7 linked regions of the Homo sapiens genome follow. The protein of the gene in region 3 purifies or fractionates together with the protein of the main gene of each other region. This does not show direct contact. Each region holds a gene or a part of one and is shown on either strand. Other genes may lie near its edges.

The links.
Region 1: the proteins of PTPRF (region 3) and LRRC52 purify together in Homo sapiens (co-immunoprecipitation; one large-scale study listed by IntAct). This does not show direct contact.
Region 2: the proteins of PTPRF (region 3) and NAA50 fractionate together in Homo sapiens (co-fractionation; one large-scale study listed by BioGRID). This does not show direct contact.
Region 4: the proteins of PTPRF (region 3) and DNAAF5 fractionate together in Homo sapiens (co-fractionation; one large-scale study listed by BioGRID). This does not show direct contact.
Region 5: the proteins of PTPRF (region 3) and PPWD1 fractionate together in Homo sapiens (co-fractionation; one large-scale study listed by BioGRID). This does not show direct contact.
Region 6: the proteins of PTPRF (region 3) and ITM2B purify together in Homo sapiens (co-immunoprecipitation; one large-scale study listed by IntAct). This does not show direct contact.
Region 7: the proteins of PTPRF (region 3) and ZDHHC5 purify together in Homo sapiens (co-immunoprecipitation; one large-scale study listed by IntAct). This does not show direct contact.

What each region holds. Positions count from the first base shown.
Region 1 is NC_000001.11:165,561,000-165,564,457, reverse strand, and holds the end of LRRC52 (leucine-rich repeat-containing protein 52 precursor), read right to left. Parts: intron 954-3,458; coding exon 634-953; 3' UTR 501-633; downstream 1-500. UniProt on the Homo sapiens protein: Auxiliary protein of the large-conductance, voltage and calcium-activated potassium channel (BK alpha).
Region 2 is NC_000003.12:113,715,958-113,719,103, forward strand, and holds the end of NAA50 (N-alpha-acetyltransferase 50), read right to left. Parts: 3' UTR 501-3,146; downstream 1-500. UniProt on the Homo sapiens protein: N-alpha-acetyltransferase that acetylates the N-terminus of proteins that retain their initiating methionine. Has a broad substrate specificity: able to acetylate the initiator methionine of most peptides, except for those with a proline in second position.
Region 3 is NC_000001.11:43,537,383-43,540,882, reverse strand, and holds part of PTPRF (receptor-type tyrosine-protein phosphatase F isoform 1 precursor), read right to left. Parts: intron 2,686-3,500; 5' UTR 2,606-2,685; intron 1-2,605. UniProt on the Homo sapiens protein: Possible cell adhesion receptor. It possesses an intrinsic protein tyrosine phosphatase activity (PTPase) and dephosphorylates EPHA2 regulating its activity.
Region 4 is NC_000007.14:757,699-761,198, forward strand, and holds part of DNAAF5 (dynein axonemal assembly factor 5), read left to right. Parts: intron 1-3,500. UniProt on the Homo sapiens protein: Cytoplasmic protein involved in the delivery of the dynein machinery to the motile cilium.
Region 5 is NC_000005.10:65,580,296-65,583,795, reverse strand, and holds part of PPWD1 (peptidylprolyl isomerase domain and WD repeat-containing protein 1), read right to left. Parts: intron 759-3,500; coding exon 577-758; intron 1-576. UniProt on the Homo sapiens protein: PPIase that catalyzes the cis-trans isomerization of proline imidic peptide bonds in oligopeptides and may therefore assist protein folding. May be involved in pre-mRNA splicing.
Region 6 is NC_000013.11:48,239,706-48,243,205, reverse strand, and holds part of ITM2B (integral membrane protein 2B), read right to left. Parts: intron 1-3,500. UniProt on the Homo sapiens protein: Plays a regulatory role in the processing of the amyloid-beta A4 precursor protein (APP) and acts as an inhibitor of the amyloid-beta peptide aggregation and fibrils deposition. Plays a role in the induction of neurite outgrowth.
Region 7 is NC_000011.10:57,685,114-57,688,613, reverse strand, and holds part of ZDHHC5 (palmitoyltransferase ZDHHC5), read right to left. Parts: intron 107-3,500; coding exon 1-106. UniProt on the Homo sapiens protein: Palmitoyltransferase that catalyzes the addition of palmitate onto various protein substrates such as CTNND2, CD36, GSDMD, NLRP3, NOD1, NOD2, STAT3 and S1PR1 thus plays a role in various biological processes including cell adhesion, inflammation, fatty acid uptake, bacterial sensing or cardiac functions.

The sequences.
Region 1 (3,458 bases), about 120 Mb from region 3:
ATATTTATATTTCATGTAAAGGAAAGAACATGGACTTTGGGAGGCTGTGTTACTTACCAGTTGGGTGACCTCAATCAGTTGTTTAACTTGTTCAGGCCTCAAATTTTCACGGTAAAATAATATCAATATTATAGGATGGCTGTGATAACTACAAGATGGAGTGTGAAGATGGTACATGGATGGACACATTCCATTAATGTTAGTTCTTATCATTGTCTTATACTTTTCTCCATTTGATTAATATTAATCTTCACTTCCACTTAAATTGTTTGCTCTTTAGGGAAGATCTTAAATCTTGTATTCCTTGTATCCATCCCTCCAGCACTTAGTTTGGGGACATAATATGTACTTATTAAACATGAGATGGCTTACTTTTGGGGTAGACTTTCTCGGTATTTAGGTGCATCCAACAACGTTTCTAGATTTTGTTCTACCCCATCCTGCTGAGCTCAAGGAATCATCCTCGGGCTGGTGCAGTGGGAAGGGACCAACCTGTGAAATGGCCATCAGAGATTTTATTTATTTTACTAGAAGGTTTCAATCTCTATGACAGCTCCAAGGTGGTGGGATGGGGAGGGCAAGAGAGAAAGCAGGGAGCCTGGGGGAGGCACATAAGATAGTGGTCTCTGGCAACTAAATAAGCTGAGGGAACTCCTGGACCGAGCTCGTCTGGGTTTGAAAAATCCGCCGGCTGACTTCCACCCTAGTCCCGGCCTCGTCCTCATCTTCTTCACTCGACTTGTGGCGGGTGTTCTGGTAGAGCACAGCACACACACCTGTGAGCCAGGCAGCCACAGTTCCCGCGGCGAAGATGCAGAAGCCGATGAGCAGCAGGAAGATGTAGTCTTTGTGGTCCAGGTGCGTGATGCACATGTATCGGAGTGGGTTCCCCACCCGGGTGATGGGCCACCCTGTCAGCTCTGTGGGCTCCACACATGTGGCATTTAGATCATCTAAGAAGAAAAACACAGCAGGCAGGGTGCTGAAACAGCGTGACTCCCAGCGTCCTAAGGCCAAAGGGGATCAGGAGGGACCATCTGCACCCTCAGTGCTCCAAGTGTGGTCTGTGGGCCAGCAGCATCGACATCACCTGGACCTTGTTAGAAATGCAGAATCTCAGGACCCACCTGTGACCTCCTGAATCCAAATCTGCATCTCAACAAGACCTTCAGGGTATCTGTTGCACATTGGAGTTTGAGAAGTACTGGGCCTGGACTGTTCCTTGTCCCCAGGCTTTGCTGCATTCAGGCCATGAAAATGCTTCTTAAGGATGCTCAAGGAAGGAGAGGCCACAACAGGGGTGGGGAGGTTGGAAGGTTAGGCAAGATTGCCATGGAGTGTTGACATCTCTCTGTTCTTTACCAGTCACCTCCCTCTTGCCCCTCCCTTGCCTCCATCCCGACTTTCCCTTCACCTTGTCCCTTTCTCTTTAGCAGTAGCTGAGTCCAACCTGGCATCACTAGCATCCCCCGAGAGCATTGCAAGCCACTCAACTATAGGCTTCAGGAGACGAGATTCTCCTGAAATGTTTACTGTGTGTTCTACCCGCTCACCACTTTCCCCCCGGAGCAAGTCAGGGGAGCCCAGGGTAAACAGGTTGCCAATAGGGAAAGCAGTTCTGCTTCTTGGTGGTGATGTTGGCCATCACTGGCTGATTATGTCATCGACATGAGTCTTCAGTCAGTCTTAGTAGCTGACTCAGCTTCCTGGCTACTTCTCTGAGCACCTCCCCATATGTAGCGCCATGGCCTTCACTATATAACAGAAAGAAAAGTGGGCTCTGGAGCTAGACAGGCCAGGCTTCTAATCCAGATTCTGTTACTTGCTAATTTTGTAAACTTCAGCAGGATACCGGATTCTGTCTCTGAATTCCGTTTCCTCATCTTACCAGTGCAAAGAATGACACTTCTCAGGGTAGTTGAGAGAACTGACTGACATAGGTAAGAAGGCACAGGTGATTGTGCCTCAAGCACGGAATCCTCGGAGCCCTATCACTGCCCCTACATTTTTCTAACTCCATATACTCTTCCATGCTGAGGCTGAGTGCTTGTGTGATGTGCTCAGGTGAATGTATCCAGCACACACTAGATCACTGAGCTCCGGCTCAGGGCTTGAGACAACCATAATCAAAATTATAATAGCAGCCAGTATTTGCTAAGTGCTTACTATGCACTAAGTTATTTACAAATATCTCATTTAATTCTAATAATAACCTTGATGCACATAATATTATTTTCCTTGTCTTACAAATAAGGAAACTGAGATTCAGGAGATCCCATAACTTGAAGGTTTTAGATAACTGCAGAATCTAGATAGAAGATAGAAGACAGAAGACAGAAAGCCAGTGTGAGCTTGCTTTGCGTAAGTGGGATTTGCAAACAGGAGCTATTGTGGAGAGGAGTTTCCTCTAAACTTCAGGGCAGGAACTGCCTGACTAGTGAAAACATCACTATCCTTGGTGACCCAGGATGTTAGGAAAATCAGGTTCAGTTAGGTAAATCCTAATGGGGGCTGGAAGCAGCATTCAAAGAAAAAGTACAGAAGTAAGTTGGCTGGGGAGAAGGCATTTGGGCTTATGGGTGGCTGGAAAGAGCAGTCCTCTTCACCCGGACACCAATACTTGCCTCTTGCTTCTGTATCAATGCACCTACAGCAAAGTCATTTTGTTTTGTTCAGGAAGATGGTGTGCAGTGTGTAATGCTGTTTAGGACTCAAGCTTTTAGACACAAGAGGGGAAGCCAGTGCACGAACTGTGTCATATCCACTGTTTGTAATGATTACAGAGGAAGGGAGAGGAAGAAGCCTCTCTCTAGACAGTGTGGGATGGTGGCCCTCAGGGCAAACCTGCCCCACCAGAGAGCTCTCAAGTAGAGGGAAAGGAGTTGAGGGCTGAAGTTGCAGGAACACAATTATGCCTCTGTACCTCTTTCTAGTCAGCCTGGCTTGAGGACCTCTGTGGCTTTGCCCAGGAGGCCTGGGCATGGGGCTCCCATGAGCAGGGGAGGCGCCTGGGAGCTCTCCAGGAATTCTATCGAGAGAGAGCTCAGGTCACCTGCCCAAACTGTGGGAGACACATGAATCTTCAAAGAAAGATGTATTTGAGAAAGGCAAACATGGGATTCGGAGGGTCTGGGATGTGTCTAGGGGGGTTTATCTCATTCTATTTTTAAAAAGATTGGGCTTTCAAATTGCAGCTTGGGCGGCAGAGATGAGACTAAACATCACACACGTTTCCCCATTTTGGAGCATTAACTTTGAAAGGAGCAATTAGGCAGTGATTTTAATGCATTGTTAGGCTGCTAAGTGAGGGATGTGGGTGGCTTTGTTGGGAGGGAGGCCTGGGTTTCTCTCCCACTGAATTATCTCCCCCTCTTCCCAGTCGCAGTCACTGCCAAGATTTGGGCTCTCCCCTCCCGGGCTCCCTATCTCCATTGTTTCCTTTTCCCAGCTCGGGGCCA
Region 2 (3,146 bases), on a different chromosome or scaffold from region 3:
AAATTCTGAACTTGTATCTGTTTTGCACTCCCTTTCCCACTTGTAAGTCTCAGTTCTCCTATGGGAATTAAGGCTTTTTGTTTGTACTGGAGCCAATGTTAGAGAAAACAAGTCAATGTAGGGAATTCAAAATTAAGGTAAAATCAAGATCCTTGAAGGAGCTGATTCATTTTAGTAAATAGGATGACCTGCACTTAGACATGAATTCTGCTTAAACTAGAATTTTACTTACCTTTATTTAAAGAAGTCACAGATATTTTTTGCCTTGCTCACTGCTGTATCCCTAGAGTTCAGAATAGTAGGCACCCAGTAAATCTGCAGAAACAATGTACAACTTTTATATCCACTAAAGGAAGATCGTTTCTTACTTAGGAAAGTGATAAGAATGAAGGATGTTATAAAATTGTTTTAAAGGTGCTATAACAAAGCCTTCATCTTACTAAGAGAACTGGGATTTACTGTTTGTGTATTCAAATTTCACCTGCATAAGCAATTACACATATAGTACCTGACAGTTTTATTATACTTTAGGGGAAGAGATGGCTAGTGACAAGGAGAATTCAAGATTGTTCAAATCTTTACAGAAGATTTTTGATACTAGCAAATGTTTCTCAAAGATAAACTAGACAAGTTCAGTATGGACAAAGAAACAAAGAAAAGCATTATAATCAGATGTCCTACGAAAGCTACAGTGATTCAACATGTGCTTTAATTTATACTGCTTAGATCCTTTGAGTTCAGATGTCTTGAGTTTTTGAGGACAGTAAAACAAGTAAAACTGGGATGAAATTAAAGCTATGTGGCAAATTAGTTTCAGTTAAATCAGGAATATCTAATACAAAGCTTACAAACTCCAAAATAGTTCAGCCAATAGAGTAACTTCCCAAATGCTGGATTTAAGCTTTCATCACAAATTTAAAAAGGTAATAATTCTTCTAGATCTCAACTCTAGGCTGTTAACAAGTAGCAACTCCTTCATATTAACTTTCTGCTCCCAACTATTTCTGAATCAGATCTTGCTGCTATTTTTTTCTTATTCTAGAAGCTACTGAGCAAGGAAAATACCTTGATTCATTCTAGATAGAAAACATTTTACTGGCCAGGCGCCATGGCTCGCCTGTAATCCTAGCACTTTGGGAGGCTGCCCCAGGAGGATTGCCTAAGCTCAGGAGTTTGAGACCAGCCTGGGCAACACGGTGAAACCCCCATCTCTACTAAAATACAAAAAATTAGCCAGGCGTGGTGGCATGCGCTTTCTAGTCGCAGCTACTTGGGAGGCTCAGGCAGAATTGCTTGAATCTGGGAGGCGGAGTTTGCAGTGAGCCAAGATCGCGCCACTGCACTCCAGCCTGGGCGACAGAGCGAGACTCTGTCTCCAAAACAAAAACAAAAACATTTTACCTAAGAAATCAAGTATCTTAAATTTTGGAGAACTGAAAAGGTTGAGAATTTCTGCCCCAGTAACAGATCGTTCTCTGACTTAAATAATTCTCAATGTTCTACCAAGTTAACAACACACATTAAGAAATCTGACTCAAGCTCTTTTTCCCATGTGACTATGTTACTTGGCTGTATCATAAACTAGGACTAAGTTCCTACAGTTCAGTCTTGCAAGGGAGAACCAATTCAGGACACTGCCATAGAAAATATTTACTCCCTGAAAAACTTCTATAGGCTTACTGTTCCTATTTGTGACTGTAGTATCCAATTTCCCAGAAATATTCAAATCAGTGAGAACAGCATCAGTCTGAGACAGACTAGTCTCCCCTCCCCACTGAAAACCCAACCACAAGAGCACAGCCTTTAGACCCACTATTTCTTTTATATCCCGAATAACTGTAAAGTGCAGTGCTTTATAACCCTCATTTAGAAAACTACTCCTTTTAGAGACTAATAAAACACAACCTAACCAAAACTACCCTGACCTTGGGAGTCAACGAAGCCCAGCATCTTCTCTGAGCAGTGATAGCCAGTCTCCTAGAGGGCCCAATGATATCCACCTCCCAGTATTCACATCCTTGTGCAGTCCCCTCCCACACTATACCAAGCTGATTCAATGGTTGGTCTGTGTGACTCATGGAATATGGCAGAAATAATGTCACCTGAGGCTACGTCATAAAAAAGTATGGTTTCTGCTCACTTTCTTATATCACCTGCTCTAGGGGAAGCCACATACCAGTTGTCCACCAGGCAACTGGTGCCCAAGGAACTGAAGCCCAAGAGCCACGTGAGCATCAGGCACTGTGTGTGATACCCACACAGTGAGGAACAGAAGCCCAAGAGCCACGTAAGCAAGACATCTTGGAAATGGCTCCTCTAGCCTTGTCAAGCTTCAAGATGGTACAGTCCTGGCTAACAGCTTGACTGCAACCTTCTGAGATCTCAAGACAGAACCACCCAGTTAAGCAGCTCCTAGATTCCTGATCCAGAACTGTGGAAGGTAATACTTGTTTGTTGTTTTAAACTACAGTAATAACTGAGACACACTAGACAAGGATCACTCATTGCTTCTTAAATGAAAAAAGCAAAAATCTAATTATAACAATTTTGACTAGAAATATTAAATACTGAATTCTGTTAAAGAAAAAATCTTAAATTCATGTTTGATAAAAAGCTTAAAAGCCAATTCCCAACTCATTGAACTACCGTACTCCTTCCTTACAAGGAAGAAAAACAAAACACCTGAATATGTTGTCTGTAGCCAATAAACATTACTAACTAGATTGCAGCCTAAAGTGTCAAGTATTTCTAATAATTACATTAAAAATACAGCAGCAAGACAGTTCCTTGGATCTTACTTTTTCCCTCTCATTGGAACTGAATTGTAGATATTGGGCACTGTACCTAGCAAGTCACAGAAGATCTGAATTAGGATGCCTTAATTACACTTGGCCTATTTTAATGATTTTAAAATTAGATCTTAAATGTGAAAGTAAATAAAAGCAGTAAGGGAAACACTACACAATGAGTATGTACGGTTGCTGGCTGCAGAATTCAACAATACAGTTTTGACATTTACAGATATCACAGATCACTACCAGAACATCACATAAGTTTATTTCAGATGTAACAGCAATGTTAAAATTGACAAGTTTAATTCTTAACTGCACCAAGTAAACTTAGCCATTTAAGTATTTTTTTAAGTT
Region 3 (3,500 bases):
CAACCACTGGATTATGACGGGAATAAATTATAGTCTCAGCCAGGACCCCTGACCCAGGGAAGGAGGGGCCTGTGGGGAAGAGGGTGAGGCCGCCTTCCCTCCTCCAGCCAGTTGGCCAGAATCCGTGAGCAGAGCCAGGAACAGCCCTCCCTCCCACGGCTGGTATCGGGGCTCCCACCAGCTGGACTGAGTCCCACCCTGTTGCAGCTCTCAGTTTCTCCATCTCACTGAGGAGTGGAGGGGGAGATTAGGAGGAGTGTCGCAGAGACTTGGAGGCGGCAAAGGGTCAGCAGGAGACTAACTCTGGAGGCAAATGACCAAAGGGGACCAGCAGAGGTATCTTCCTGCGGCTGTAACCCCTAAGCCTCCAGGCCCCTTCCTCTGGGGCTGGGGTCCCCCTTGGATTACTGTTTCCCAACTTTGTGCCTCCAAGCCTCTGTACCTGCCGTTCTGTCTATTGGAAAAAAATGTCCTTCTCCTGCCCCAGCACTCACTCACCCCTCAGAACTCTGCTCAAGTGGCCCATCACTATCCATCTTCCCCACTGACCCTCCCCAATTTTCCAGGTTTGTACAGTATAGTGAAAGCAGCAAGAGGCTGTAGACCAGAGGTTCTCAATTCAGGGTAATTTTGCCCCCATGGGACATTACGCAACGACTGGAGACATTTTTGATTGTCGAGACTGGGGAAAGCGGGGAGATGCTACTGGCATCTAGGGGGAAGAAACCAGGGATGCTGCTAGACACCCTACAATAACAAGCCCTGCCCCCACAATAAGGGTTATCTGATCCAAAATGTCAATGGTGCTGAGGCTGAGAAACCCCAACACAGACAACAAGATCCTTTGCCAATTGAGCCTAGAGCCTGACCTGGCCCCTGCCCCAGAACCCAATCCCCTGTGGGCACCCTGGGCCTTGTACCCAAGGAAGCTCCAACCTGGCTTAACTCCTGTATTTGCTGGCGCCTGGCCTCAGGATCTCAGAGTATCTTCCCCTGTACCCCCACATCAGCCCTACCCAGCCTCCAGAAGTCAGGTCCTATAGCACACCCCATCTGCACCCCACCAGACATGCCATCAGCTAGTGGCCTCCCGAGAGGACAGAGGGCTCCACCTTCAGGTACCTATTCTGGCAAGACTGGACTTCGAGTTAGGTCAGACCATCATCTGAGGATGGAGAGGCAAAGGGACACATAGTGTCCCTACACCCACCCTCCCCATCTGACCTTTCCAGCCTGTGACACAGCCCCTCTTGCTGCACCCTCTACATAACCCCAGTGCCCATCTCACCAAACGTAGGGTCTGGACCCCAGGAGACACCCAGGACATACACATTTCCTTCCCCTACCCAGGCCAGACCCATCTCTTCCACAGCCTTGTTAGTTCAGCCACCCGTCCAGATGTTCAGTGGGCAGGGTGATGAACAAGAGAGTCACAGGCTCTGCCTTCGAGGAGCTTACAGAGGGTGAACAGACCCACCGAGCTCTTGGCTCAGGATGGCCCAACCAGAACTCATCTGCCCCAATTCCACTCCTCCTCCAGGGTGTCCAGTCTTGGGGACAGCACCACCATGTTGTCAGTCACCAAGCCCGCAAACCCTCCTTAAATGCTCCCTTGTCCTCATCCCACACATCTAACCCATCAATAAGTTTGAATCTGACCTGCCTCCATCCTCACTGCCACTGTGTTAGTAAGACCTCATCACTTCCTGCCTCTTTGGTGGGCTTCCTGCCTTCAATCACTCCCAACCCATCCCGCACACAGACCAGTGCCACCTTTCAGCACATAAAAATGCAAATCTGCACTTTTGTTTGCCACTTTATTTCACAGCAGGCATTCAGACAGTGTTCCGTGAAAGAATGAACGGATGGGCAATGGACAGATCAACACATGGATATTGCTTCTCTGCTTAAGAACCTTCAATGCTGCTGTATTGCCCTCAGGAAAAAGTCTAAAGTCTTTAGCCTGACATCCAAGGCCCATGATGCTGACTCTAAACCAACTTACCAACCTCATTCCCTGCAACTCCAGCCCACCCATTCTGTGCTTCTAACAGACAGAGAGGAGAACAAGGGGACATCAAAGAGATGCAGAGGACATGCCCAGATCCTGCAGGCACCAAGCTCTTTCTACGACAACCTACAGTCGATGGGAACAGTCTTTTCTACAGAAACGTGGCGAATGGAGAAGCAGAAGAAAGATCCTGGTGTAAGTCCCAGGACATCACCCGGAAGCCTATTTCACACCTACAGTAGCTGACGAGCTGTATGTCATTCCCCATCCACCTCTATCATCCACTCCAGCCAGAAACTCAGGCACCATCCTTGACACCTCCCCTCCTTCATGCCCCACATTCAATCCTTCACCACGTCCTGTCTACTCTACCTCCCTAAATAGCACTCACATCCCTTCTCTCCACTTCTGTCACTGCCTCCCTGGTCCAGGCCTCCACAATCTCTCACCAGTGCACACTGGATCATGTCATGCCCCCTGCTGACACCCCCTCTATAGCTCTCCACTGACCCTGCATCAAATCCAAGCTGCTCAGCCTGGTCCATAGGACCCCTGTGCACCCCTGCTCCTGGCCACTCTGTGGGGCACACTCACCGAGTCTTTGCTTCTTCACCCCGGTCACTCTTGCTGGATACTCAGCACCAAGGGCCGGGCACCAGGGCCTCCACTCCTTCCTGGACAGAAAGGAAAGCATGAGAAAACATCAAGAATTTCATCACAACAGCATATGTATTGACACAGAAAGACATTAAAAATTTGCTGTTTATGCAGAAAAAAAAGCAGGTTATGGAAATGTTCATGTAGAACCATCCCCATCTGGTAAAAATGCCCATCTTTTCCCTTCACTCCCTCGCTCATTCATTTTGATACTCCCTAAGCACCTACTATGTGCTGGGCGTCCTTCCAGGCACCAGCCATATAGCTGTGAGCCACACAGACCAAGTCCCTGACCTCAGCAGTAGACTCTGTGGCCCAGCTCCTCAGCATGACCCCAGAGCCAAGCAGAGTCGGCCCCTCCCACCTCTGCAGCCCTACCTGCCCATGCTCTCCTCCTGCCAGAACGGGAACTTCCTCTTCTGATCCTCAAATGTGCCAAATTTCTTCCTGTCTCCCAGCCTTGCCAGTGCTGAATGCCACTGCCTGGCACAGGCTACCCATGCTCTTCTGGCCAACTTACCCTCGGATCTCAAGTCCAGTGGCACTTTCTCAGGGAAGCCTTCCACAATGTCCCAGACTACCTGCCTGGACCTTGGCTTGGAGCCGTGACCACAAACATGACTATTTATATATTTTTACAATTACTGAGTCACTACCATAAGCTTGATAGGAGCATGGACTGTGGCTGCCCAGCTCATTTCCGTATCCCCAGCGCCTGGCTGACAGCTGGCACATAGTAGGTGCTCAGTCAGCATACACTGAATGAGTGGATGAACGCATGAATGAGTTCAAAGAAAACAGCCCAGCCTGGAAGAACACACCCCAACATACA
Region 4 (3,500 bases), on a different chromosome or scaffold from region 3:
TTCATTTGAAGGTGAGTGGTCCCTGTCAGTGTGTGTGTTGGACTCAGCACCCCAGATATTTCTGGGACACAGGGCTGCCCCCACCAGGCGGCCGTGCCATGCAGGGCGGGCCTCAGCTCACCCCTGGAGGCACTTGCTCCGGCTCGATCGTTTCCGGCGGCTTCTATGGCCCCAAAGCTGGCCTGGGGCACGGGGACTTGCCACTGTGCTCTCAGCCCGGCCTGTCCTGTGTCAGGCTCCCTCTCCGTCCTCAGAACGAGAGGTGGGGCTGTTGACAGTCATTTTTGTAAACTGTTTTAAGAAACCTGTAAGCAGTTCCTGGAATACATAGAGGGAAGGAAACGGAGCTGGGGTAAGGAAGGGAGCGGGGGAGGGGCCCGGGCCGCGTGCTCATGGCATTTCAGCCATGCTTCAGCTTTTCCCAAAACCCGTTTTTAACACATCATCGAATGTGTGTCAGTTCTCCACTTTCCTTCACCCACGAGGGGTTATGAGGATGCCTTTGATTTCTGTATACAGATTTGCAAGCCAGAAGCATTTTTTCCTAGAAGGGCATAACTTGAAAATGTGCACAGGTGCCTAAATCCTTATCTCACAAACTTTATAGCAAAGAAAGTGTAGTTTTCACATCTCCATGTTGGTTACAGGAAAACGGAATTGTGTCATCCCACAGTTGTGCATTTGGCTCCCCATCTTCCAGTTTTATCGAGGAAAAATTTAATCACAATCTTTCAAACAGAGACGTCTTTCTGACAAAGTCCAGTCACACGGGACCCCTGGGAAGCCAGCCTCAACCTTCCAGGCTGCGAACGTGTGTCGGCCCTTTGGCCAAGGAGCCAGTCACAGTGAAAACCCAAGACGTACATTTCACTCCTTTCTTGTTTTTATTTTTTTGTTTTAGGTTGATCCTCCCACCTCAGCCTCCTGAGTCACTGGGACTACAGGTGTGCACCACCACACCTGGGTAATTTTTTTTTATTTATTTTTATTTATTTACTTTTTGGGACAGAGTCTTGCTCTGTCACCCAGGCTAGAATGCAGTGGCGCAATCTTGGCTCACTGCAGCCTCCGCCTCCCAGGTTCAAGCGATTCTCCTGCCTCAGCCTCCCAAGTAGCTGGGATTACAGGCATGCACCACCACACCCGGCTAATTTTTGTGTTTTTAGTAGAGACGGGGTTTCTCCATGTTGGCCAGGCTGGTCTTGAACTCCTGACTTCAAGTGATCAGCCCACCTCGGCCTCCCAAAGTGCTGGGATTACAGGTGTGAGCCACCGCACCTGGCCCCATTTTACTCCTTAACAGACTTAAATTTTTGGCAAGAAAGGGTGAAGGTACTCAGGTCTCAGTCAGAATCAGGCCCGTGGTTCTGTGCTCTTCCCACGCCCCTGTGCTCTTCCCGCGGCCGGCCGGGCTTTGTGTCATGTCATTTGGGAAGTCGATTATGTTTCCCACAGCTATTCTCCAGTAGCTATGAGAACAGGTTGAAAATGTCTTTCAAGAACAAACCGAAATTGTTTTAAAAGCTCGTGTTTAAACAGAGAAGTCCGTGTAAATGTATTCTAAACTGAGCCTGGCTTCACTCCCTGCCCTGGGGTTCACAGGAAATCTGGCTTTAGCAGTAGGTACTTCCAGGTGTCTCGGGCCCAGTAGGTCCCCTAGAGCTCGACAGACGGGAACTGGAGTCTCCTGGGAAGGAGTTTAGGACAGGTGTCTAGAGTGAGGAAATGGGTAACTCACCGATTTGCTTCTCACACAGGGAAGCCAGCAGTTGTGGGATGCCATTGCCATTGTTGAAATAGGAGTCTCTTGTGCTTTTCTGAATTAAAAACCTTTGCAGTCTTAGATAACATTGTTTCAGAAAACAATGTTTGAAATAGTATTTCAAAAAATACTGAGAATTATTTCCTGCTGTATCTTTTTTCTTTTTCGTTCTGTGTGTGTGCGTTGTATGTAGGCAGACACTGAAAATTGTCTGGTCAAATATAGAGAAATCTATAAATGTGAAGTCTTGTCACTTCCTCAGAGACGGTGCTGCGTTCGTGGCAGGAGGGTGGTGCTTGCTGCAAAGGATGCCTGATTCCCTGTTTGTTCCTGTGCTTGGAGGTGTGGTCAGCCAGGAGGGGCTGTGTCTTCTAAACGCACCTGCCTTTTGATTTTAACCGAAAAGATGATCGCTCCTGAAATGTACATGACAGGTCATTCTAGAAACTAGCCAGATATTGTCCTCAGAAGTCAGCCAGTTAGTACAGGCCTTAGAGAAATTGGGCTGTGGGAAAAATCAGGAATGGAATAAAAACAAATCTGTGGCTTCTGTGGGAGTTGGGGCCACGACAGGGCCACACGGCTCCTCCAGCTCCGAGGGAGACGGGGCCGCGCGGCTCCTCCAGCTCTGAGGGAGACGGGGCCGCGCGGCTCCTCCAGCTCCGAGGGAGATGGAGCCATGCAGCTCTGTGTCTTCTGTGGGTCAGGGCGGGGCCGGGGTGCAAGGACAGAACGCTGCTGTAGTACAGTGGGAGTGTTTTGTTTAGTCTTCCATGATTTACGTCAGTGGGGAATGAGGCTTAGAGTTTTAGAGCTGATTAGGAAATTTAGAACCAACCCATTGTCTAGCCAAATAATTACCAAACTTCTTTGAACTTGCACCCCCATTAGTAAAAACAGTTTTTAAGCATAGGCCTCCAATATATGTACACTGTTGATAAATCACGTGTTTAAATTACATGGCCACGGTCCTGACTCACTCTGTACTTTATGAAACATACATAAAATAGACATTAGAGGGACGTTATAAGAAGTAAATACAGGCCAGGCGTGGTGGTTCTTATCTATGATCCCAGCACTTTGAGAGGCCACGGCAGGAGGATCACTTAAGGCTAGGAGTTTGAGACTGCAGTTAGCCACGATTGCACCACTGCACTCCAGCCTGGGCGACAGAGCAAGACCCTGTCTCTAAAAAATAAGTTAAAATTTATTTAGAAAGAAGTAAGCACACGCAAAGCCTTAGGAATTCTTGGGTCCAGCACACGCCTGCTGTGTTGCGGGCTTCAGAGCCTGGCTGATTCACAGTGGATGAGGCTGGAGCCGGGAGGGGAAGCCATTCATCCAGCGCAGCCGTAGGTGCAGAGCTGAGACTCCACCTCCCCGTCAATCAGTAAACATGTTAAGCCATAGAATTTTATTTGTCTTAAAACTTGGTGTTATAGAAAAGCTCAAAAATGCACAGAAGAGGGGCAGGCAGCAGAGCGACTGCCAGCTTCAGCGCTGACCAGCCCTTGGCATGCGTGTTCTGCCTGCCTGGGGCCACTTTTCTTTTTAACTTTGGAGGGCGGGGAGAACTTGGGCATGTTGTAAAGCAGATAATGCAGTGCGCCGTCATTTCCCTCACAGGTGCCGTGTGCATCACTAACGCAGCTTCTCCACCACATAGCTCAAGTGCCTGTTCACATTTCACAAAATAAGCACAGATTCCTTAGCTCCCAGTCTGTGTTCAGTTTTCCCA
Region 5 (3,500 bases), on a different chromosome or scaffold from region 3:
AAATTTTTTTTAAGAGATAGAGTCTTGCCGTGTTGCTCGGGCTAGTCTCAAACTGCTGGCCTCCACTGATCTTCCTGTCTTAACCTCCTGAATAGCTGGGATTACAAGTGCGTGCCACTGCACCCAGCTTGTAGTTCACTTTTAAAACACAGAGCTACTGAAACTATAAAGAGATAGTAGGTATCTAGCAACTGTTGGTAAGGAAACATAATTATCTTTCTCTTAAGGATTTGCTTTGAGAGGAAAGCAAAGCAATCCACAAAACCTAGAGTTCAGATGTGCTGTTAACAGTAACAGTGATACACATTTGTGTATCACTTTACAGTTTACACTCAGCACTTTCATAGCCAATACATTTTGTCCTCGTAATGAACCTATAAAGTATATATGCATAAAAATTTCCCATTTTCTACCGTAACACTTATCAGAAAGCTCAGGAATAGATGTTTTTTATCAAACGTTTCTTCAAAATTCCTTAAGTCAAAGTAACGGGAATTTTAAGTTGCATGGTTTCTTCAGATATACACATTTACATTCTTAATTACATAAGCCAATAAAAACAGTTGTTATACATACTCAACAGGAAAAAGTTTGGTGTGAATGTCTCCCATGCTGGTGTGGATAATGGCACTGTCCGAAACTCGTTTAGGTCCTTCAGCTTGAGTAGCTGCCATGACTTCTTCTTTAGAAGGTTTCTCATTAAAAACATCTCGATCAGAATCTGCACTTTTCGTATCTTCTGGTTCTCGTTTGGTAAACTCAAGGAGGAAAGTAAAAAGTGAGTCAACGAATTAAAGTTTTCATCTGGTAAAAATTTTATGAACAATAGAATTTCTAATGAAGTACTTAAGAAATGTAAGAATTCACATCAGAATCCTTATTTCAGGAATCACTTCCCATACAGGATGTGTCAGGCAATTAAATTATTTTTACATTGTCTAATATGAAAAGGATCCACATAACATACTGAACACATTGATTTCAAATGGAATTTAATTTCTTTGGTTAGAAATTTTCTTGGGCAAACATTTAACAAGAATAATTGTTTCATTTGTGGTAGCTCTCGACTTATGCCTTCTAGTAAGGCCTAACATGCCACCTGTTTGTTGCTCAGTTCATTATTTAGATTGTTTGGATTTGAATTCCAGTTCTGCGACTTTGGGGATGTGAATTCATTTCTTCTCTTCCCTCACTCATATATGATGATAACAGTACATACCTTGCAATGAAGGTAGTTGTGAAGATTAAACGAATAGATATTAAGTCCTTGGAGAACAGTGCCTAATACATAGAGGGTACTATATACATATTAACAGTTGTTATTACTACTATGAGCAGGACCCCATGCTAGGTAGAATAAGGATTCACAAAAATGAATCTGAAATGGATCCTTAATTTTTTTTCACAGTCCCAACTGACCTAGAATCTAAACCCTGAAGCATAGGAGAAAGAATGCAAATTTTCAGTGAAGTTGTAGAAATCTCAGATCCTTGGGGTCTAGGAAGAATTGAGAAAAACCTTTCAGTTGTTAAAACTCTGGACTTCTCAAGGCCTGTTTCTTTAAGTAGAAATGCTCTCTCCTAAGCAACCTCTATCTGATGTAACTTAATTATGGGAACGTAAAGCTAGTGCCTCCATCCCTATCTTGCCTAATGTCATTCCTTGATCTGCTTGGATAGATTCCAAATAAACAACCAAGTTAGGATGCTATCACCTTAACATCCTATTCTCCAGTTTTCAAAGGAATGGCATGTCTGTTGTACTATTTGTTTATATGAATTTTTTAAAGTTATGACTTAGCTGATATATGGATTTGTAAAATCATACTTTTATTTCATGATGTTGGATCTGAAAAATTATGATTTAGCTCATATATGGATTTGTAAAATTATACTTTTATTTCATGTTGGATCTGAAAAATGGGACACAAAATTCATATATATGCATACCATTTTAGTTTTGCTTAAGAATATGTACTAGTAAGACTCAAAGAAAATTCGTAACAATGTTAGCTGTATAAAGCTACAGTGAATGACTTATTTTGTTTCTCTATTTTTTCAAACTTTATAATGAATATATATACTTTGATCAACACACAAGTAAACTTGGAAAAGAAAAAATATAAGTTTTTTGAATAAAGTGGATGGAAAATTAGTGTATGTGTTTTGAGTGTATATCAAGAAATATCCTTTTTTGCCTGTTTTTGTTTAGCAATAGGGTCTTGCTCTGTCACCTAGGCTGAAGTGCAGTGGTGTGATCATAGCTCACTGCAACCTTGAATTCGTTGGCTCAAGAGATCCTACCACATCAGCTTCCAGCATGGCTGAGACCACATGTGCACACCACCATGCCTGGTTAGCTTCTTAAATTTTTTGTAGAGATGAGGTCTTGCTATGTTGCCCAGGCAGGTCTTGGTCCTGGGCTCAAATGATCTTTCTGCTTGGGCCCCCGCAAAGTGCTGTTTTTACAGGGATAAGCCACCATTCCTGGCCAAGAATTATCTTTTATGGGTAATTTTTACTTCCTAACAAAGTTAAATTAAAGGTAAAACGATTAATTTTTTTCCTTCATATACTAATAAATTTTTAGTAATAATTTTGAAAGGTGTAAATGAAATTCTCATCTTAAAAGTATTTACCCATTTAGATGGAAGGTTGGTTGGGGTAGGGAAACTGCTATTTCATACATTTATCAAATGCTGTTAACCTTAATAGCATTACATCAGTTTACAATGTTTTGGAGGAATGAATGAATATACTGTAATGCTGTAGTCATTTCCTAACTTTCTGGATTTAACAGTGAAGAAGACATAGTGCCTGTATTTATGGATTTTATCTTCAGAAGAAGAGCACAGCGTCAGAGGCCAAAAAAATAAATTATTGATGTTCACACAAAAAGTGTGACACATCATATGACAGGGGAAGCATAAGAGAAACATAGCAGGCACATCTAACTCAGACTTGATGTTAAAAAGGGCTTCCAGGCTGGGTGCGGTGGCTCACGCCTGTAATTCCAGCACTTTGGGAGGCTGAGTCAGGTGGATTACCTGAGGTCAAGAGTTCGAGACCAGCCTGGCCAACATGGTGAAACCCTGTCACTACTAAAAATACAAAAATTAGCTGGGTATGGTGGCATGCACCTATAATCCCAGCTACCCAGGAGACTGAGGCAGGCGAATTGCTGGAACCCAGGAGGCAGAGGCTGCAGTGAGCTGAAGTCACGTCACTGCACTCTAGCCTGGGCAACAGAGCAAGATGCCATCTCCAAAAAACAGAGGGGCTTCCAAACTGAAACTTGAAGTATGAGTTAGGAGTTGGAGAGAGGTGTGTGGCTGGTAGAATGAATAGCCTGTGCAAAGGCCCAGAGTTTAAAAAGCACACTCAACTACATGTGAACTTTCAGTATGGTTCGTGTAGCAAATGAATGAAAAATGAAGAAAGATAAAGCTACAGAAGTGAGGAGGGCCAGCCAGCATAGATAGCTGGGGCACCATTAAAGGG
Region 6 (3,500 bases), on a different chromosome or scaffold from region 3:
ATGAGTTGCCTCTAAAATTCCTCATGAAGGAGACAATCTTGGAACTTTGAAGAGGACGATCAGAGGATGCCTCATCAATCTTTCTAGACCATCCTGTCTGATCTTAAATTAATGCTAATGGTAATTCAGATGGTTTCCATTATTATCCATTATTAATTATCATTAAGTCAATTTTTAATGTAAAAGGAAATATTCTAACAAATCTTTAAAAAGCTATCAAGATAGCTAAGTTGAAGTTCTAATATTGATTTCCAGTGAAATGTTTGTTTACTTCCTCCTGAAAGCTCAATAAAGCGACAGTAAAGGGATAAAACAAATAAACCTTAAGCCACAAAGAATGAAAATGAATGACAGCAGACAAGTCATGTCAATAAAAATGTTGAAAGCTGAAAGCATAAAAGAAAAAAGAAAAAAAAGATATAAGGAGAAAATCACCAGCCTGTAGACAACCAAAGGGGGAAAAAAAGTCATGTACAAACAAGGAATCAGAATGGCATCACATTAGAAGATAATGGAGCAATGCCATCAAAATGCTGAGAGAAAAATGAATGCTAACCTAGAATTTTACACCCAGATAAATTATCAAATATGAGGATGGAATAACGATTCTGAGACACGTAAGATTTTTTAAAAATTTATCTTTTTCTTCAGATTTATGAAACTGTAGATCTAGCATGTGATAAAGACAAAGGCAATTCTTCCAAGATGATTATGACTCTCAGGACATTTGTATGAGTGCAACCAGTCTGGAATAGAAAACTAATGAATGATGGGCAAGAAATCATCAAAAAAAAAAGAAAGAAAGAAAGAAAGAAACTTGGTAAGTTACCTGGTGAGTTTGAAGACACAGAAAGACAATTATACTGCTGTCAGAGTCTGAGGAATGAATGAGCAGTAAGTATGTAGAAAATTAAGGAACCCTCTCTCCTGCCCCAAGAAGCATGATCAAATTCAGGGAAAATAAAAAGTTGTTATACAAGAATGGAAGTAAAATAAAAGTATACTACAATACTCAAATGTAACTAATGTTTATGTTAATTATAATAAAAAACACTAAATATCAATTTAACCAGAAATTGCTAGAACAGGAGAAGAGATCATGTGTGCAGTGTGTAAATATTCAGAAAAAGCTAAATATTCACCTTCCATGTAGCTATTATCAATAGGTATTATCTAAAACTGCAAAAAATAAAACAAATGAAAACAAACCATGAAACAGCAGTATAAGCAAATATTTAGAATAGATGTTCTGCAAATGTGGTCCAGGAACACACCCGTTCAGGGGGTCCACAAGGTCAAACTTTTTTCATAATAAAACTAAGACTGTGTTAGTTTAAATAATAAAACTGTCATTTTCACTTTCATTCTCTCGCTATGTTTATATACAATAAAAATTGTACAGTGCAATTTTCCAGAAGCTAAGCACCATATCACAACAGACTGAATGAAGAATTTGATAGGAAAATCCGGCTATCTTCTATTAAGCTATTCAATAAAGGGCACTGCCGAATGTAAAACAATGTTACTGTTAGTCTTCTTAAATCTTTTTGGTTATTTGGAAATATATATAACCTACATAAAGCAAAAGCTCTTTGGGATCCTGAACAATTTTTAAGACTATAAAGGAGTTCTCAGAGCAAAATGTTTAACAACCACTGATTTAGAGAAATAGGGAGTTAAAAGAGAAACATGGAGGGCCAGGTGCTATGGCTCAGCCTGTAATCCCAGCACTTTGAGAGGCCGAGGTGGGTGGACCACTTGAGGTCAGGAGTTCCAGACCAGCCTGGTCAACATGGTGAAACCCCGTCTTTACTAAAAATACAAAAATTAGCTGGGAGTGGTGGTGGGCACCTGTAATCCCAGCTACTCGGGAGACTGAGGCAGGAGAATCACTTGAACCTGGGAGGCGGAAGTTGCAGTGAGCCGAGATCATGCCACTGCACTCGAGCCTGGGTGACAGAGCAAGACTCTGCTGCCCGCCGCACCACGCCCTACTGGGGCAAAAAGTGAGAAACATGGAGTTAAGATCGCCATGTATGGTTGGGCAGGTTGTTTCCAGTACAAGGATGCCAGGCCAAGGGAATCAGTAGGTCTAGAAACCAACTGATGCTCTATTCTCCAAACCACCAGAGAGGGGATCTTTTTCTAAATTGCACAAAGGCAGAAGAGGGTCTAGTGGTCACCATGGTAATAAAAGACCATAAGAAGCTAATAAGTGAATATGATTGCTTTGAATTAATCTATGGGGAGAAAAATTAGAATAGTGGTTACCTCTAAGGAGAACAAATTGTAAAAGGACACAAGATAACTTTCTGAGTTGATAACAATGTTCAGCTTGATTGGGAGTTAGAGCCCAGGTATACAGACTTAAAATTATCTAACTGTACACTCATGATCTATGCATTTTACTGTATACAATGATGCTACAATTTTTTTAAAGTATGTTCCTCTGACATAGGGCAGGACTATATATTTGCATATTAAAATTTAGTATTACTTTGGTAAAACTCAAATTCTATTAACACCTATTATGTAATGAATAAATAACATTTTTAAATGAAATCGGTACAGCTACTGAATCCTAAGGGTTTTTATGTTGCAGGAATCAATCTTTACCAGAATGCCTTGCTGTGAAAAAAGTACCAACAATATTGTTACTGACATGTGAGGCAGGGATAAGCAGTAACAGTAATATAAGAAGTAATATTCCAAAACAAGAATGATGAGGAGAGAAAACTGGGACTTTAATAATAGTAGTTGATCAAGAGGTCAGGAGTTCGAGACCAACCGGGCCAACATGGTGAAACCCCGTCTCTATTAAAAATACAAAAAATTAGCCAGGCATAGTGGCAGGTGCCTGTAATCCCAGCTACTTGGGAAGCTGAGGCAGGAGAATCACTTGAACCCGGGAGGCAGAGGCTGCAGTGAGCCAAGATCACACCATTGCATTCCTGCCTGGGTGACAGGGCAAGACTGTTTCTCAACAAAAAAATAAATAAAAATAACAGTAGCTGAAATCTACTAATTTTTAACTCTGTTCCAGGCATTGTGCTATTATTGTTACAGATTATTATTTTCCCTATTTTGCTGATGAAAAAACTGAGACACAGAGAACTGAAGTAACTTACCCAAGGTATCAAAGTAAGTGATAGAGACAAAATTTAAATCTTTTGAAGAATGACTGTATAACCTGAATTCTGCTAGTGCTGCTGCTTCCTGAATAGCAGCAGCCCCTCCCCAACAATTCAGTGAGGGTACTGGGCAAAAAGGAGAAATATCATTCCTTTGATATTTTTCCCAACCATTAAAAAATATAAAAATCATTCTTACCCCATGGGCTACAGAAAAACAGCAGGCAGGCAGTATTTGAAGATATAGGCTATAATTTGCCAGTCCTGCGTTCCACTTTAAAGGAGATTATAAAATAGTGGCCCATGCCTTCAGTGTTTTGGGCTAAAATTGTTGTATAAATTAAAATAGTACTGATTTTTAGCTTGCCT
Region 7 (3,500 bases), on a different chromosome or scaffold from region 3:
AAGCGGCAGGTGGCACACCATTTCATGCGCACCTGGATGCCCTTTATCTCCACTGTTTTGTAAAGGGGAGCTCGGAAATCATCTTCCTTGTCCTCATCCTCCTCAGCTGTAGAGAGGAAAAGTCAATTAAAAACAACTATGCCAGAACTGTAGTAAGTGCTAGGGATTCAATGATGTTTAAAATATAGCTTCTGCCTTTGAGGAATTCACAGTCTAATGAGTGAGACTAGGAACTAGGAACTATAAGACTGTGAGGTCAGGTCTTTATACAACACTATGGGAACATGGATGAGGGAGCAATTTATTCTGCATTGGGAAGTGAGGTTCGAGATAAAATGACTCAAGAGGTAGCTCTTGTATGCATCTGCTGGTGTTATTTGGTTTAAGTATATGAATATATTTTAAAGAAATAGTTTACATATCAAAGCACATACATAATGAGTTTGCATAAGAGTTCAGTATCTACATTTATATGAGTGAACTATAGCAATCCAAGAGAGGAACTAACATCAACCTTTTTTTCCAGGCACGAATCCTTTGCCCAGCCAACCATGGTGGCTCACGCCTGTAATCCCAACACTTTGGGAGGCCGAGAAGGGCGGATTGCCTGAGCTCAGGAGTTCAAAACCAGCACGGCCAACATGGTGAAACCTCGTCTCTACTAAAAACACAAAAATTAGCCTGGTGTGGTGGCATGCACCTGTAGTCCCAGCTACTCAGGAGGCTAAGGCAAGAGAATCGCTTGAACCCGGGAAGTGGAGGTTGCAGTGAGCTGAGATCACGCCACTGCACTCAAGCCTGGGCAACACAGCAAGACTTCATCTTCATCTTAAAAAAAAAAAAAAAAAAAAAAAAAACTTTCCCAAAATGTCTTCCCCTACTCTATGAATTTTCTCTACATATACGTATTTCAGTATTATTTGTTGCACAAGCATAAATGCCCTTTCTCTCAATTTTCAGCTATCAGAAACCCACCATCCCATTTCAAAACTTAAAAGACATTATTTGCCTTCTCATATACAGTTAGCAATTTTTTTTTTCTTGAGACGGAGTCTTGCTCTGTTACCCAAGCTGGAGTGCAAGGGCGTGATCTTGGCTCACTGCAACCTCCACCTGCCGGGTTCAAGTGATACTTCTGTCTCAGCCTCCCAAACAGCTGGGATTACAGGCGCACGCCACTTCGGCAGCTAATTTTTTGTATTTTTAATAGAGACGGGGTTTTACCGTGTTCCCCAGGCTGGTCTCAAACTCCTGAGCTCAGGCAATCCACCTGCCTCAGCTTCCCAAAGTATTAAGATTACAAGCATGGGCCACCGCACCCAGAGCAATTTTTATTATTAACCTAGAAAAAAAAAATGTGGGAAGGAAAAATTAAATAGATGATAGTGTGGAATTAAAAATTAAGTTTTCAAATTTTACTGATTTCTTTACATAGCATTTTTTCATATTTACATCACAAGAAATGCTAGGTAAAGAACTGTACAGCTGGGTACGGTGGCTCATGCCTGTAATCCCAGCACTTTGGGAGGCCAAGGAGGGCAGATGACTTGAGGCCAGGAGTTCAAGACCAGCCTGGCCAAAATGGCGAAACCCCATCTCTACAAAAAATATAAAAATTAACCAGGGGTGGTGGCACACGCCTGTAATCCCAGCTACTTGGGAGGCTGAGGCAGGAGAATGGCTTGAATCTGGGAGGCAGAGGTTGCAGTAAGCCAAGATCATGCCACTGCACTCCAGCCTTGGTGACAGAGTAAGACACTGTCTGGAAAAAAAAAAAAAACACACACACACACAAATATATACTGCAGATACATGGTATACATAAATATACACATATATTTTTTAAGTCTTCAAAATATTGCAAGGATATATACCACAATATAACAGTAGTTAGCTCTGGTCTGTGAAATTATAGGTAATGTTTTGCCTTTTTTGTACTTCGTACATAATGAATGTGCACTACTTATTGAAATCTTTAAATAAAAGATTTTTTCTTTTGGTCAGGCACAGTGGCTCATGCCTGTAATCCCAGCACTCTGGGAGGGTGAGGCAGGTGGATCATTTGAGGTCAGGAGTTCCAGAGTAGCTTGGCCAACATGGTGAGACCCCATCTCTACTAAAAATACAAAAATTAGCCAGGCACGGTGGCACGCTCCTGTAATTCCAGCGACTCGGGAGGCTGAGGTAGAATAATTGCTTGAACCCGAAAGGCAGAGTTTGCAGTGAGCCGAGATGGAGCCACTGCACTCCAGCCTGGGCAACAGAGAGTGAGACTCTGTCTCAAAAAAAAAAAGATTTTTTTCTTTTAAAGGGAAAAAATTCAAATGCTATTTTTCTTTTAAGAGAGTTTTGCTCTATCACCCAGGCTGGAGTGCTGTGCTGCGACCACAGCTCACTGCAGCCCTGAACTCCTGGGCTCAACTGATCCTCCAACCTCAGCCTCCCAAGTAGCTGGAACCGCAGGTGGGCACCAGCATGCCCAGTTGCAATGCTCCTTATTTTGAAATGTCTGATCCTTCTACATCATCATCTACCAGAAGTGATCTCTTTGATTACTCTTACACAATGTATTTGTTTTTTGTTTGTTTGTTTTGAGATGTAGTCTCACACTGTCGCTGGAGTGCAGTGGCGCAATCTCAGCTCACAGTAACCTCCACCTCCCGGGTTCAAGCGATTCTCCTGCCTCAGCCTCCCGAGTAGCTGGGATTACAGGCATGCGCCACCACGCCCGGCTAATTTTGTATTTTTAGTAGAGACAGGGTTTCTCCATGTTGGTCAGGCTTGTCTCGAACTCCCAACCTCAGGTGATCCACTCACCTGGGCCACCCAAAGAGTTGGGATTACAGGCGTGAGTCACGGCACCCGGCCCACGGTGTATTTGTTTATAGAGGTGTCTTCCTATCTTCCTTTCTAGTCTGAGCTATTTGAAAGGAATGACCTTTTTATTTTTTATTTACTTTTCTTCAGATGGAGTTTTGCTCTTATCGCCCAGGCTAGAGTGCAATGGGGCAATCTCGGCTCATCACAACCTCCACCTCCCAGGTTCAAGCAATTCTCCTGTCTCAGCCTTCCAAGGAGCTGGGGTTACAGGCACGTGCACTACCATGCCTGGCTAATTTTTATATTTTTAGTAGAGACGGGGTTTCGCCATGTTGGCCAGGCTGGTCTCGAACTCCTGACCTCAAGTGATCCGCCCTGGCCTCCCAAAGTGCTGGGATTACAGGCGTAAGCCACCACGCCCGGCCAGCAATGACCTTCTTAAAAACCCCAAATGACCATCATAGTGCCTTCCATAATACATCAATAAATATTTGATGAATGAACATTAAAGGCTCATTAAAATAGCCTTTCTTGGCTTTAGGGACACAAAGTTCTTTTCCCTCACCCAATCTTTGAAGGGAAGTCACAAACAAAGCACAATGATGTAGGCTTTGGGAGCACAATGAAGTTCTTTTTTTCTTTCTTTTTGAGACGGAGTCTTGCTGTTGCCCAGGCTGGAG